Regions from separate parts of the Homo sapiens genome. Here region 1 is linked to region 2. Evidence: fine-mapped expression QTL. A gene starts in region 2. The other region holds a variant in brackets. All regions are shown on one strand. Distances are from middle to middle.

What was found.
Region 1: its variant is fine-mapped to the expression of PERP in subcutaneous fat (TwinsUK, PIP 0.90).

Annotation. Positions count from the first base shown.
Region 1 is chr6:138,003,717-138,012,056 of GRCh38, forward strand. No RefSeq gene overlaps it. Among named protein-coding and RNA genes, the nearest start is that of SIMALR, 62 kb to the left of the region's middle. The variant C/T (reference allele first, on the strand shown) is at 4,777.
Region 2 is chr6:138,102,440-138,110,779 of GRCh38, forward strand. PERP (p53 apoptosis effector related to PMP22) reads right to left here and starts at 4,980. Exons shown (of 3, transcript NM_022121.5): 1 at 4,688-4,980. The coding sequence starts at 4,901. RefSeq lists a silencer at 5,109-5,158.

The DNA of each region.
Region 1 (8,340 bases), 99 kb before region 2:
AAACGTATAAATCAGACTGCATTTAAAACAGTATTTAAACACATTATATCTCACCGAGGGCATTTAGATGAATCTATGGCATATTCCTTAATATGAAGCATGTTCCCTTAAATTATACCTCCCTAAAGGATGGTTTGCTCCTGGCCAGCTAGGGCAGGGAAGGGTGTGGGGTTAATCATTTTAAAAACTATGAATCAGATTCTGGGCTCACCAGTAGTTGAGCTGTTCTTTCTATAACTTCAGATTTATGCTGTATTCAGCAAATACGGACCCAGATACCTTCAAATATTAAGTATTTATCCTTCAGAACTTTAAGAAACACAGGTGACCAACCGTGCCTCATCGTCACAAGGGTTCAAAAATGAATGAGTGAATTTGTTCTGAAATTTGGGGTGGGAATGTAAGAATGAAATCCTTTCTACATAAAATTCCATTGAATGGGGCCACTGGGAAGGCATTGATTGCCCCTGGAGAGCAATGCATCAAAAATGAGAGAAAGGAAGAGATTTTTTGAGCCATTTTGCCTTTAAATTTAGCAACGATACTTTTTGACTTTTTTCAGCAAATTACTTAATAATGTACTCCAATTAGATAGAATCATATAAAAGAATCTGTAAAATACATTCTCCAACCAAACTTTCTTCCTGTTTAAATTGATATTTTGATATTAATTATAGTTTTCATTTATACATAAAAATAGTTATCACATTATATACATAAGTACCAGATACATAGCCTTGACTTTGAAGGAAAAAAAAAATCCTGGTGTTACTAAGTCCTGCTCAAAATGAAGACAGCTTCGCAGGATTTTCCCAAAGACACATCTTCCACAAATTATCTTGGTCCTCCCTAAGCAAGGATATTACAAACAATATAAGAATATAGTCCAGAAAATGTTAGCTAAAGACTGACACCCAGTGGCAGAGGTGATTTAGGTGGTGAATTACAGCATAGCTTCTTGCATAGGAGTGAGGGGTGCACGTTGTGGGTGTTTCTCTGTAATACATGGTTTTCATTGAAGACTCAGGGTCACTGAAGGCCAGATTACTTTAAAAATCTAAACATACATTCTTGACCTGAGTAATTTTTTTAATTGATCATTTGAATTCAATTGTAAATGTGGACATTCCCAGAGTGCACAGGAACTAACCACATTTTCTGCACCCTGTAGCCTCATGTGTTGCTTTGAACGTCCTTTCCACCCTCCAGCTGCAGTGCCATCCCATCCTTCTTTCTTCTTTGTCAAGAAGTAGGCACAGACCGTGGATCTCAAACTTGCAGGCATCCCAGCCATTGAGGGAACCTGTTAAAGAAGCTGATTACTGAGCCCACCTTACACCTACAGAATGGGACGCTGTAGGCACCAAGCTGAGAAGTCCTGTTTGAAATAAGCCGCAGGCTCACTTCTGTTGTGTGAGTCCTACAGCAGTGACTGACTTCTGTGTACTCTCCCTTCCTCTGGCAACTCCCTTAGGAAATTATTTAAGGTCAGTTATTGACAGAGGGCTTCTCAAATTTTGTTGTGAATCACATCATTGATTTTGATGCGGTGAGTCTGGGGTGGGGCCTGTCTTCTACATTTCTAACAAGCTCACGGGTGAGACTGCTGCTGCTGTCGGTCCTGCACCGCATTTTGAGTAGCAAGGGCAGGAAATCTGTGCCCTCTTAGAATGTAACACTGGAAAGTGGTCTCCCTCTTATGGTTTTTAAAATTGTGAATGTGCTGGTTTGAGCAATAAACTCTGAAGGTTGAGCATGCATATGCAGTACACGATTCTAATGAAATCAACTGTACAGCAAAATTAGCTGTCATTAACAATGTATCATCAATAATGTATAGGACACAGTAATTAGGTATAACTGCTGAGCCGGCCGCATAATTGTCATAATTAATATTGCTTTTACAGAAATCACATCTTTAGATTTTCTCTTCTCATGCGACCATCTTCCTCCCGATATAAAAGAGCTTTTAACCATCATGTTCTCCCTCACCCAATGATATGGGTAAGTTTAAAACCAGAGTGCAAATGATTTTGTCACAACATTTTATTTTTGACAAGGGGAATAATTAGGAAAATAGAAAGTTGTTTGAAAGGTAAATCATTAAAGAAAAAAGAAAACAGAGTTTGAAAATGTTAAAATCAAAATTTCCCAGATTCACAGTTTTGTTTAGGTTGACTTCATCGTTGTGAGCGCCATTGAAAGACACAGGTGTGGCTCACTCGAAAGTTTTCAGAAAGAGTAAACAGATTTTAACACCTGCCACTGATAGAGTAGGGAGGGGCCTAGGGATTGGTAAAAAGGATATTGACGGTGAAACACCCATATGAAAAGAAACTTCACAAACGTAATTTAAGTCTTTCATGATTGTCTATGACAGAGTGGTGGGGGAGGGGGAAGTGTTCTCAGAAACAAGGCTTTCCTACAGTAGGCAGAGGCATGAGAAGATTCAGGCACATCACTTCCTGCCAGGGATACTGTCAAGCAAACCCCAACAAAAGCAAGAAAATGATCATATTCCTTTTTTTGTAGTATTGCCTTCTCCAAGAGTCTATTTCAGCAATCCACTCTAGCCACCAGGTTGGAGCAAAAGAAATGAATACTTTATTCAGCTGACTCTGCACAGAAAATTAGCTCACGATATTTAACCAACGTAAGATACCCTCTTAAAGAAATTCAGCAGACAGTAACACTATAAAAAGATTTGCCAAAAAAAAAAAAAACACCAAGAGTTAATAACCTGAGTGGTATTTTCATTTTATTATGAAGAACAGAAAAGCTAGAAAAAAAGAAATAAAAACAATAGTCAAGAAACCATAAAGAAATACAATCATAAACTCCTGATCCTTTGATGGTAGGTAAGACAGAAGAGAAGGGACCCTTTCCCTGAGGGCCAATCTTGCAGCAGACCTGAATTACGAGGTGAGTTCTCCACCCTCTGCCTGGGAGCTGATGAGAGGGGTGTGATACTGTTTATAAGGCACTGGCTAGTATTATAAACTTCCCTCACTTCTATAATCTAGTCAATGTCTACATCTATTTCATTTATTGATACTAAGACATTCTTTAGAAGTTTCTACTTTAATTTTTTTCCTGCACAGTACACCTTAATTCTTAACTTTATAATTTTCTATTCTTCCTAATCACAAAAAAGTGTTCAGATAAGAAAAGCATTTTGAGAACAATTTCCTGTTAAGTTATTCAGGATGGTGTTTGAGCAACAAAGCTATTATAGAAATCAGGTTTTAAAGCATTTGAAATCAGCTGCCCTTGGCAGCCCATCTTTCCCAAGGAGCCCCACGGTGCATACACCTAACTGCGACCATTCAGTTGCCCTTGTCCTCTCCCTAAAATAAATCCCAATTGTACTCCCACCTCCTTCCAGCTTCCTTCTGCCCCCTCGTGGCAGAGACCAAAGTTGCCCTCTAACTTTGAATGTTCTCTAGGGCCCAGCACCACTTTTAAAAAGAGCAGTTTCTGGCTTTTCAAGGGTCCTCTCTGTCCCTGGGATTTTTAGGTGTCCCATGGGGCATTGCAAATTTGCTGAGTCAAAGTTTGTCCAGCCAGATTTGCACAGCACGTGGTGGTGGCGGTAGCTTACTTTGAGCTAATGCTTCAGTCTGCTTCACCAGGCAAAAGATGACTAATCTGGCCTATGAGAGAGGAATGAAGCTGGGCATTGTATAGTGTGATTTTGTGATGCAGGAAAGTCAGTTTGATGTGTGTTAGCCATAGTGAGACTACCCTAGGATGGGGCGGTGCCCACTTTACTCAAATCAGATCCAGGCAGGGGAGTCAGACCTAGCAAATTACACCATAGAAAATTATGCCTCCGAATGAGAAACTGCAATCTCAAGAGTGGGTAATTAGGGTTCCTAATTGCACAACATTATTGAAAGTTTCTCCCACCTCCTTCAGTGAAATAGCATGCCTCCCATAGATCCAACCCTAAAGGTATACTGAAAGAGATTTGGCTAGCTCTAAAAGAAAATCAAGTTGTATTCAAAGAAACTCAATAACAGCTACAAATGAAGCCACAGTTCTACTCTCTCTTCTACGTTGCACTCGGGCTCCCTAGAGGCAAGCTCAGTTACCCCATGCAATGATGCTAACCCAAAGGCAGGACTGGGGAAAAGGAAGAACCCAAGATACTATTTGGCGGGACACTACAGGCCAAAAGAGGAGCTGACCTTGACCTGGAGCTCTCAAAGTTGGCTGTCCATTGGAAACATCTGGGGAGTGTCTAAGAATACCAAGAGCAGTGTGCCGTTGACCTGGCTCTCAGGCGACGAAGTAGGAGTGGGGGCTGATTTGTGATTTGTCTTATTTGTCAATTGCTATAATACAAATATCACATTGTCGCCAATTTTTTTTTTTTTTTTTTGAGCTGGAGTCTCGCTCTGTCACCAGGCTGGAGTGCAATGGTGCAATCTCTGCTCACTGCAAACTCTGCCTTCTGGTTTCAAGAAATTCTCCTGCCTCAGCCTCCAGAATAGCTGGGATTACAGGCACCCGCCACCACACCAGGCTGATTTTTTATTTTTAGTAGAGACAGGGTTTCACCATGTTGGCCAGGCTGGTCTCGAACTCCTGACCTCGTGATCTGCCCACCTCAGCCCCCCAGAGTGCTGGGATTACAGGCGTGAGCCACCACACCGCGCCCGGTCACACCGCGCCCGGTCACACCGTGGCCAATTTTAAGCTACCAGAAGGATGTCACTGAATACAGAGTCGGAAAGAGAATTGCAACCAGAATGAGCCAGCTCCTGCACATCA[C/T]TGAAAAGACTGGGCTTAAGGAGTGAGGCCTGAGCATGGGGATATTTAAAACCTCCCCCAGGTGATTCCACTGTGCAGCCAACTTTGAGAACCACTGACCTCTCTGTGTAGCTTTCTTCCAGGCTGCTGCTGCTGGCGCCCTTCCATCGTCAACTCCACAACTCCCAGGTCAGTATATTCCCTTTATAATGCTGTTGCCACTTTTGGAAAATGTGCTTAGGGGAAGGTGCTTCTCTTCTTCCCCTGACATGCTAAGTTGCTCATTGAGGGTGCAGTGTGGATGCTCTCTAAAGGTAGTTCATTTATTAAAAAATATGTCTTAAATAATGCGTTTGAGGCACATGCTAGGCGCTCAGGAAACAGGACTGAAAAATACTCTTTGTAACTTCAAGGGGCTTATAGTCTGGAAAGAGAGAAAGAGTTAGCAGTATCAAGGGAGCATGGGGGAGGAGCCCAGAGAGCATGCATTGTTGCAGACACTGTTTATCAGCTAACCCAGCACTTTCTCAAACCCTTTGTCGTCTCCAAGATAACAACTAGAAAATCAAGTGCTGTGTTCCCCAGCTCCCCTTAAAGCCAGGCCTGGCAAGAAGACAGTTTTACTCAAGGAGAGAGGGAAGCTAAAATCAGCTGGGAGCCTCCAAAGAAGTTTTTGCTTTTAATGTTTAACAAAGAAAAAAATGAAAGCATATGCAAGGGTGGTAAAACCTCTGTCCCTGGAGCTCAAGGCAACTGCCTGGAGCTGATGCAGCCATCGTATAACCATGAGGTAAAAGCCAAAAGAATCACTGATACACTAGCACTAGCATCTTTTAGTCGTTGAAGCGATACCAGAAGCGGCCTCTGTTTGTCTGCAGGTGCGTAGGTCAGCATTTATCTGACTTGCAGCTGAATGCAATCAAAACTGGCAAACTGGTACAGGTATGGAATGCAAACTGGTACAGGTATGGAATCCAAACTGGAAGGTGGGGATAGAATGCTTCCTCACGGGGAAAATGAACAAGCTGAATCTTAGAAGATGAGACAAGTTAGTAATGGAGAAACATGGGGAGAAAAGGGTTCTAAGCAGAAGAGTAATATGAGCCAACGTCTATAGACCGTGAAGCATCCTATTTTTGCTAACTACAGGAATTGAAACTTGATCCTAAAGGCAAAGGTTAAATTTTGAAAAATTTTAGATTGAGAAACTATATGACCAAATATGTGTTTTAAAAAAATATTACCCTCTAATGTGGTCTATTGCTTCTAAGAATTTTCTTTTGCTTTTTTTTTTTTTTTTTTTTTTTGAGACAGGAAGGATCTCTGTTGCCGGGCTGAAGTGCAGTGACATGATCACAGCTCATTGCAGCCTCAACCTCCCGAGCTCAAGCGATCCTCCTGCCTCAGCCTCCCAAAGTAGTGGGATTACAGGCATGAGCCACTGCACCTGGCCACTTCTAAGAATTTTCTATTGAACTACTTAGTTTATAAAAGTGAAAAACCAGTAACAATCTAAACCTTACCCATAGGACATGGTGAAATAAATTATGGGACCACCCTATAATGGAATATTTTTACAACCATATTTTTAGAGAATATATTATTTTACTAGTGGCATAATAACTAAAGAAAAAAGTCAGCCCGGCATGGTGGCTCACGCCTGTAATCCCAGCACTTTGGGAGGCCAAGGCAGGTGGATCACGAGGTCAGGAGATCGAGACCATCTTGGCTAACACGGTGAAACCCCGTCTCTACTAAATATACAAAAAAAAAGTCAGCTGGGCGTGGTGGCGGGCGCCTGTAGTCCCAGCTACTCAGGAGGCTAAGGCAGGAGAATGGCGTGAACCCAGGAGGTGGAGTTTGCAGTGAGCCGAGATCGCACCACAGCACTCCAGCCTGGGTGACAGAGTGAGACTCTGTCTCAAAAAAAAAAAAGAAAAGAAAAAGAAAAAAATTACAATATAAAACCTCAACCTTTTAGGAAAAAAAAATGCATAGAGAAAAAGACTACAAAATTTTATGAAATTGTGACTGTGGTTCTTGCTAGGTAGGGAAAATACCATTAATTTTTATTTTTTAATTAATTATTTTCCAGATTTTTAAGTAACCATTTTTATCATCAGGGAAAATGTTACTTAAAATCTAAAAATGGCAGCCACAGTGGGGGCTAGCCTAGAAGCAAAGAAATCAGCTCCCAAAAACTGTCTGTTTTGCTTCTGGGCCTTTGTGCTGTGTAACCTAGAGTTGGAAAGTAATATTCTTAGGACATTCTCAAATCTTGCTCTTCCTTCCCACCAAAAGCATTGCTATGGGCCTGGCATGGTGGCTCATGCCTGTAATCCCAGCACTTTGGGAGGCCGAGGCAGACAGATCACTTGAGGTCAGGAGTTCGAGACCAGCCTGGCCAACCCGGTGAAACTCTGTCTCTACTAAAAATACAAAAATTAGCCAGCATGGTAGTGAGTGCCTATAAGCCCAGCTACTCAGGAGGCTGAGGCAGGAGAATTGCTTGAACCCAGGAGGTGAAAATTAGAATGAGCGGAGATCATACCACTGCACCCAAGCCTGGGCAACGGAGCAAGACTCCATCTCAAAAAAAAAAAAAAAAACAAAAACAAAAACAAAAAAACATAGCTATGGTGCTATTCCCCCATAAAGCATGTGTTGATTCTCTGGAGTCCCACCCTGGCATTCGTAGCCTTAACATTCCTCGGTGGGTTTTGACTCTGCTGCCTTCTTTAGCCCAGCATTTCCCACTACCTTGGGTGAGCCCCTTTCCACCCTCCTTGGGGGTAAGAATTCATATATTTTTGATAACCCTGGGAGCAACATGATGAGTGTTTGTGTTCCACGTCTGTCACAATCCCTGCCACGACTACTGTTCCAGCCATGGTTTGGGTCATGGGACTCTTCATTACCAAACACGGTGGACTGGGTTGGACAATTGCTCAAGAGCAGTTATTCAGTGGAGTGGCATTTTCAAACTGAGCCAGGTCCATCCATTTCTTGCCCTTGGGGACTTGAATTGGGAAGTACAGAGAGAACCAGACAGTAGGAGCTAAAGTTGGAGTGATGTTTAGATGAAGGTAGGAGGTCATGTTGTGATCACAGCAAGTCATGGCCAAGCAGCAATGAGAAGGCAGAAACTATGAGTAGGCAGATTCAGTGATGTATGCAGGAAAAACATATGCTGAGTAAAGGGGTAAATGAGATGTACTGAGAGGCAAACAGAGCAGACCCCCCCCAGAAAATAGCAGACTCCTATAAATGGAGGAGAATTAGAGTGAAGTTTCAGAAACTCCAGGAGTTGAGGTTCTTAGAGACCGCTGCCTTGACAGAATACTGGCTGGTCTACTGTTTCTTATTTTGCGTTTTGGTTCATCTCCCTGTATGCTATGTGTTTCCTTAAACTAAGATACCCTACCTCCCTTTGTACTTCCGTTAACCTAGGTTACAAACGTCTCTGTTTCTTAAAGTCAGAAAGACTGAACTTGAATTGATTGGTCCATCTATTTACTTGTATATTCCCTTATTCATTCTTTCATATATTCTATAAAATATAGTGAAATTGTGCCAATATTCTAT
Region 2 (8,340 bases):
AGAACTAAGTTGTTGAATAAGGGACGAAGCTTAGTCAGGGGTGCTATGGATGGGTGCAGGCTTTGGTGAAAGCTTGAATCTGGTGTACTTTAATTCCCTTCTAATTATAACATCCCAGTAGTCTGCGTCCCTTTACAGGACAAACACGAGTTAGGGGACACTGAGAAAGGAACCGAGGCTCTCTGGGGTGGCTACTGCTGAGTGAGGCACATGTGGAATGAATGGCCTGGACTAGATTACTGGGTCTTAAACGTTCTAGATGTTATAAATCATACGTACTTTTAAAAATTATTAAATCAATAGAGTGGCCAACTTTTTATTTTTTGCTGTGTAAGAACTTGAATGCATACATGCTCGTGCAAAGAGTAATCTGTCTGCGGCCAGGCGCGGTGGCTCACGCCTGTAATCTCAGCACTTTGGGAGGCCGAGGTGGGCGGATCACGAGGTCAGGAGATCCAGACCATCCTGGTTAACATGGTGAAACCCCGTCTCTACTAAAAATACAAAAAATTAGCCGGGCGTGGTGGCGGGCGCCTGTAGTCCGAGCTACTCGGGAGGCTCAGGCAGGAGAATGGTGTGAACCCGGGAGGCGGAGCTTGCAGTGAGCAGAGATTGTGCCACTGCACTCCAGCCTGCGCGACAGACCGAGACTCCGTCTCAAAAAAAAAAGAGTAATCTGTCTGCTAATGCCTAATTTCATAAATTAGGTACAGTTTTGTATTTTTTTGGAGACTGAGTCTCGCTCTGTCACCCAGGCTGGAGTGTAGTGGCCCAATCTTGGCTCACTGCAACCTCCGCCTCCCGGGTTCAAGCAATTCTCCTACCTCAGCCTCCTGAGTAGCTGAGATTACAGGTGCCTGTCACCATGCCGGGCTAATTTTTTTGTATTTTTAGTAGAGACGGGGTTTTACCATGTTGGCCAGGCTGGTTTCAAACTCCTGACCTCAAGTGATCTGCCCGCCTCGGCCTCCCTAAGTGCTAGGATTATAGGCGTGAGCCACCACACCCGGCCAGGAACAGTTTAATACCTTTCCCTACCCCACTCCCCACTGAAAAAACCACAAGGGCATAATCTCAAAATGAAGTCCTTTCAATCAGTGGTCCCCAACATTTTTGGCACCAGGGACCAGTTTCAAGGAAGAAAATTTTCCTTGGTTTTGGGATGATTCAAGTGCATTACCTTTATTACACACTTTATTTCTAGTATTATTACACTGTATAATATATAATGAAATAATTACACAACTCACCATAATGTAGAATCAGTGGGAGTAACAGTCTGTGGCCTCAGGGTTGGGGATCCCTGCTTTAAGAGGAATTTAGACTAATGTGAACTATTAACTTGTACTTACTTTTCTTATTTCTTGTACATTGGAGAGCCACAGGGCTAACTGACCTAAAACTATTTCATGTAATACTGATTCTTTGACTTGGCCAACAGCGATTTCATGTTAAAAACAAACAAAATATTGATGCATTTACAGTATGCAAAGGGTGTCTTTGGTTAAAAAACAACAAAAAACCGGAGGCTTTGTACTTCCCAGTTTGGATTCAAGGCAAATGCTCGTCAATCCTCACTGACTCCCTGTTTCACTCTGGTGCACAAACTTATCACCATTATTCTCCCCTTGAACAAGCTGGAGCTTGCCTGTGATTTGAAATCTACACAGCTGCGGCTGAAAATATCCTCCTGATGTATTCTTTCTTAAAAACTAGAAAAGATGGTGCCAGCGGTGCAAAACTAGTATGAGTGAACATGCATTTAAATTTCACATTTTATTTATAGGTGAAATTTGAATGATTTCAATCATTAATCTATAGATTTTCTTTTCCTGTTTTGACAAATATAAACCATGATTTTTAAAAAATTCAAATAAGAATGTTTTTAGCTGGGTGTTAATTTAGCTGGTCAAAGAAAATATTCAGCGAATAATTTGGCTCCTTCACAAGGAAAAATGAGGTGATTTGGTCATCTGAAATTCTTAAACTGTCAGTAACAGTGAAAAATATAATATTCTGCTTTTTATATAGTTCTAAGGAATTATTTATCTTTATAAAAACATCCATATTCATTCGGATTATTGTCAATACTTGCCAGGAATAACCTGTGTCTTTACTACCAAAATGAACATATTGTTATGATTATCAACTAATAAGAGAGGTGTTGAAACACTTTGTAATAACAAGATTTTCTTAATAGTTACAACGGTAAATCAAAATATTTATTGCCTAGTACATATCAAGAAGTTTTTCAAAGTGGATGTACACACTCAATTCTCTATACGGAGATCTCATTTTAATCAGAGCCATCAACCTTATTCCTTGTTGCACAAGATACTGTGTGTTTGTGCATACGTGGGAGTGTGTGTAAACTGCTTACTTCATTTTAGATAAAGTACAAGCTCATGTAAATATATGGTTTTCAGTAAGGCCTTACTAAGGCTATCTGAAAATCCAGAGTTCATAGATGCCTAGATAATCGCCTTACAGTGTCGTTATACACAGCTTCTACAATTGTGAGGCAAAACTAGACAATGTGCATGCAGGCGATGAGACAGACGTATAATAAGCACTTAAACTCATCTTTGGCTACAACGGCCAGAGGTAGCTCCATATCTGCTGTCTTCTTCCCACAGCCACTTCATGACAGCGGATCCCAGATTCATGATTTGATTCCAGATCTTGAGCAAGAGCCGTGTGTAATGCATTACTGGCACTTAATTAACTTTGCAAAGGTAGCAGGAATAACTAAACTGAGTTGTTAAAGCTATTACCATTTACGAAAATCAGTCATGCTGCATCATAAACAGATTTTTCGAGATCCACTTAGAAAATCGAGCTTTTCCAAGGACCAATTTCTATGTCAAACTGAATTATAAACTATACACTGGTTAGTGTTTTCTTTACAATGAAAAAAATTAACATTTAGACTTCTAATTAAAAATTCAACCAAACTAAGAAAAAAAACCTGCTTATTGCCTTCCATATACAAAGCACTGTATCAGTCTAAGGTGGAACACCACACCCTAAAAAGGTGAGCTCATCCTGCAAGTCAAGAAAAATAAAAATGGCATTGTGCATGTTTCACAAGAGGGCTGTGGTCACAGCCAGAGCCCTGCAGGTCAAATCATGTCCCGTCAGTAGCACTGATCATAGTTCTGCCAATATCCCCGCCACCAGTCAAAGGCACGCTAGTCTTACTTTATATGTGGAGGATTACTGCATATACTTTGGGTCTGCATTAGTCTTTGGAGTAGGGTATAATTATCAAAGTATGTTTAAAAACACACACGCAGATCTGTTAGGTCCCCTAGAAGAGACTGAGTTCAGATGCATTTTAACTAGAAGATAGAGGTACATTATTTCAAAAAACAATTAATTCGCTTTAAAAACCTAAAACACTGGAGATGATACAAACCTGAGCTGGCACAGTGTATGGGTTTTCAGAGAAGAAAACACACAAACTGCAAAGAAAGCTGGAATTTTCTGCAGTGTTTACATTTTATTACCTGGCTAATGGGGACCATGCTTCCTTTTGTGGGGAAGTGACGTCCAAAGGATTACACAAAAGAAAGGGCACCAAGTTGCTGATATAGTCCCCCGGAAACACAAATAAACAGGATTGGGTTGGAAGCCCTGGGCCACTTCAAAGAAAAAAATCAAGTCAATGGTAATAGTAAGAAATGAAAACAGGCAGGGTAGCTTGCTGTCTGTGTTTAAAACTATTAAACCCGGTAGGTAAAGCCCATTTGGCTTTAAGGTTTTATTAGGCTCTCACAGACCCCATCTCCACCCCCACACACATTGCTAATCACAGTAGACCCCAGCTGTGATTCCCATCCACCCCCAGGAAAGGAGAGGGGGCTTCCCACTGTGAAAGAAAATGCCTTCTCAGACAAGAACTATGCTCCAGTCCTGACTTTCAGCAAGGCAAGCAGGGAGCTTCCTCCATGCTGGGAAAATGGCATACAGTACTTCACCTGCTAGGTACATTAAATTTGTCAACTCTGCTTCACGTCGCGAGTGTAGGGAATGTGTTTGCTTTTTAGATTTCAAATCGGATTAAAATAATTAAGTTTTCTAAACAACAATGCCATGCTTAAACCAAAGGACACGCCCTAGAACAAGAGCTAACAAGAACTAGCCTGACCGGTAAAGTAGACTGAAATATCTATTGAAAACGTTAACTGCTAAAACTGCCTGAAAGGGCTTTTTTAAATGAGAAAGTTTTTTCAGCTATATCAAGTTGAACGAATCCACTGATATTAGGGAAGGCACGTTATTTCAATATTTATATTTTAATCATAAGAAGAAACGAGAAGGAAGAGAAATGGGAAGAAATTTCAGGTCTCCAAGAAACTTTGTTCATTATATTTACTCATCTAAACTTGCAATGCTTGAAATAATCTTTCGTACGTAACCGACAAAACCCAGGAAAAAAACTATACAGTTTGAACTACGGCCTTTTTTTTTTTTCTGTTTCTGAGCTTGGTGTTGGCCACCCAAAGCTACTGCTGCTGCATTTGGTTCAGGTCGGATGCATGAGCCCGAGCTCGTCCTAAACAGGCATTCTGAAAAGCACTGGCTCCCCCGACCCTGTGAGGGCCCATCACGCGCGGCGGCTTTTGCAGGCCGCGGCCCCGAGGGCTTCCTGGAGGCGGCGACGGCGGCGGCGGCGGGCACTCACCGTACTCCATGAGGCTCTGACAGCCCTCCTCGTAGGACCCGCTGCCGCCGCCCTCTTGGGAGCATTTCCACCACAGCGAGGACGTCTGGCCGTGGTCGCTAGACTGCAACCAGCCGCGGCCGGCCAGCGCGATGATGTCGAAGGCGATGGCGCTGAGTAGGAGCAGGGGCAGGATCCAGCGGCAGCGCTCGCAGGCCAGGCCGCAGCGGATCATGTTGACGGGCGGCGCGGGGCCGAGCGGAGCGGAGCGGAGCGGGTCGGAGGAGCGCGCGGGACGGGCGACAGCAGAGAGTGGCCTGCGAGCGCGGGCGCCGCCACAAAAGCGAAGAGGCCGCGGGGAGGCGGCTCCCGAGGACGCCGCTCCGGGCGGCCCCACCTAGATTCCGGTGACTCAGAGCGCGCCCGCCCCGACCTGCCCTGCCGGGCCGGGGCGGGCGGGGCCGCTGGTAAACAGGCTGGGTTCTGGTGACACCGGGCGGCGGCGGAAGGCGGCCCGAGGGTCCCGCGCGTCCCACAACCCTCCAGTCCCGCTCTCCTGGCCTCTCCAGGCGCGTGTTTTGTCTTCCTGGCGCACCAACATATACACTTGTTTATCTGCACAGCGCCAGCCTAATATCTGACCCCTGATGTCGCATCGTGGGGCGGTGGTCAGCAGTGCCATATCTGAGTTTTCAGCAGTGTGAGATGGGTGTTCTAATTGCACCTGTGGATAAAGGCTGCACTCCTTTGGACGCGTGCACCCAAACCCAGAAGCCCGTCCCTGACCCCTGCTGACACAGGTGATCCCTTCCTCCTAGGCTCCGCCTTTGCACCTTGGACCGTGGCTCCCCGGGTACTCTTATCTCTTTGCATGCTGTTCTTTCCTGCTGGGTTGCCAGATTTTGGAAAGCGGAGGCGATGCTGAATTTATCTGTGTATCCTTAGTGTCCGGCACCGTGTTTGGATCTCAAGGGGAGCTCAGTGAATTTGATGAATGAACATGTAATTTAACAAATGCTCGCTTCCTTTCGGAAAGGCTTCATCTGGCTTCCCCAGATAATTTCATGTCGCCTCTGCTGCAGTCCACTTCCTATCACGAATCTCTACCTATTTAAACTGCACTCTCTCTACTCTTCATTTACTATTTTGAGGTTTTTCCAAATAAAAATCATACGTCAGCATGCAACCTGCATTTAGGATCCCCCCTTCGGTGTCCTGGGCTAGCTCCCGTCGCAGTTCTGACTCCTAAGATGTGACAGGAAGGGTGGGGTGGCAGCCAGGTGTGCCGCTGAGGACAAAGGAGTTCTCAGTGTCAGGCACCTCGGTGGCCTTGGGAAAATCACTGAAACATCGTATGGGGGTCATGTCTTAACCCTGTACCTCCAAAGATTTCTTCTGAATCCCCTATTTTTTCTGTTAATTTAATATAAAAGTGGGAACTACTTAAAAATATTTTAAATTGTATTCCAATTTGATATTCTCAATAGAAACAGAATACTCTTTTGACTTATGCCATTTTCTGGCAATTCTTGAGGACGAATAAAAGCATGGAGAAAGTATCTGAAAATACATGAAATAATTTCCCTAGCCTTCATTTTACATAATTCAAGTTTTACATAAACCACGTCATATATTTTTATTACAGGAAAATATTTTCACTTTCAAAGAACACAAGAGGGTGTTCTGCCAAAAGTTAATTTTGTATCGTGGAAGCTGTGTGAAGAAAATGGTGATATTTATGTTCTCAGGGTTTTCAAAAGTAATGAAGATATTTGTTTAATTAGCTATGTATAATATATTTGTGAGAAAAAAAAATTCTTATAAGTCAAATACTGACCAGAAGCAAAGTGGCTTCAGACAAAATGAGAGTTTTGCAGGCATCTTAATATCTCTGGATAATTTTGGACTTGATATATATAATTTATTTTCGTTATTCAATGAAACCATTTCCGATGGGCTTGAGGAAAAGAGCTCATTAATGCCGAGGTGAACACAAAGAGATTAGCTCTTCACAATTTCTGGAAGAGACCACATTGACCCTGGTGGGTTTCCAACAATAATATACCCAACATGTGGTACAGACTCTGGAACCGGATGGTTCAGGTTTACACGCTTTCTCATATTCGCTGTGTGACACTGGGCAGGTTAGTTCAGTTTTTTGTGCCTCCATTTCCTCATCTGTAAGACAGACAGTGCTAACCTCAGTGTTTTAATGATTGTTAAAAGAGCAAATTCATCTAAAGTGCTCAAGATAGTTCCTGCATATAGTAAGGGTTGATGATGATGATGATGATTTTTCATATAGGTTTTCCACTTTTGAACATTGAAAGAGGGGAATGTCCATGTTTCTAAAGGGCAAATTCTATAGGTGAATACCAACTGTAAGTGACTAAGTTATTTGAGACAATGCAATCATTCATCCTAGCCATATTCATAAAATGATGGCTCATAGAGAACAGTAGGCAGTTGGATAGTTCCCCCTGCTGGACAATGTAGGGATTGCGCCTGAGCACTGAGCACTTGGCAAAAATGTAAATTGCACCTACAGAAAGTTTTTTTTTAATTGAGGCTTGACTGACATACAAAAAAGTGATATTTAATATATACAACTTGACGAATTTGAAGATAAGTACATACCCATGAAACTATCACCATAAACAAAAAGGTTTTATTTTTCTAATTTGGGGTTATGGTTATAAAACCAATGACTGTTACCAACAAAAATATATAAATAAATAATTTTAAAAATAAAAATTGGTAGAAAGTAATAGTAATAATAATAATAGCAGCTAACAAACATCTGCTGGAGTTTACTATGTCCCAGTGGGTGTTTCACATCTACCTTATGAGGCATGTACCAGCATCTCCTTCATTTACACAAGGGACTGAGGCACAACGAAGTTAAGTAACTTGCCCAAGACCATGCAGTCACGGAGTGGCAAAGCCAGGCTTCAACCTAGGCAGCCTGACAGCAGAGATAGTGCTATTCATCACAGTAAGCACTCGTAAGAGTTTATGGATGTATCCAAATGTCTCCTTTCTTCCCTTCTTTGGTCCTTGTAAACACCCAAACTACTCCTAGTTATCTCCCAAGCTGCAGTGACATGATCTCCCTGCCACCGTTCTGGGCATCTCTGTAGGACCATTGGGCCTTTGACATGGTTCTCTTGTGGCTGTCCAGTTGAGTCCATGGATGAAGTACCCTCCAGTAGATATGGAGTGATTGAGTTTCCTCTGGATGTGGCAAATGCTCCCACTGTCAACCATTTGGCAAAGATGCAGGGCCTTATTTTTCACATTGAACATTGATGAGATCACGTGATAGGTGTGGACCATTGAGAGTCCTTAATAATAGCATAGCCTGAGTTAGAACCAATAGCCATGATCCAGAAAACCAAGAGTATCTTATGTAAATTAACAGTGACTGTGAATACACAGTAAACGTCAACCCAGGATTCTTCGACCTCACCCACCCAGTCCTGCTCCTCTGACCTGATGAACACCTACTGACCCCTTGACCTCAGCAAAACTTCACTTCCACAGAAAGCCCCCAACTAGATTAAGTTCCCGTTACACATCCTCAAAGCCCTGTATGTCTTTCCTTCAAAACTTTTCTCACAATTTTAATTATATATTTATTCTGAATAATTTGTATCCACTCCCACTGCAATGTA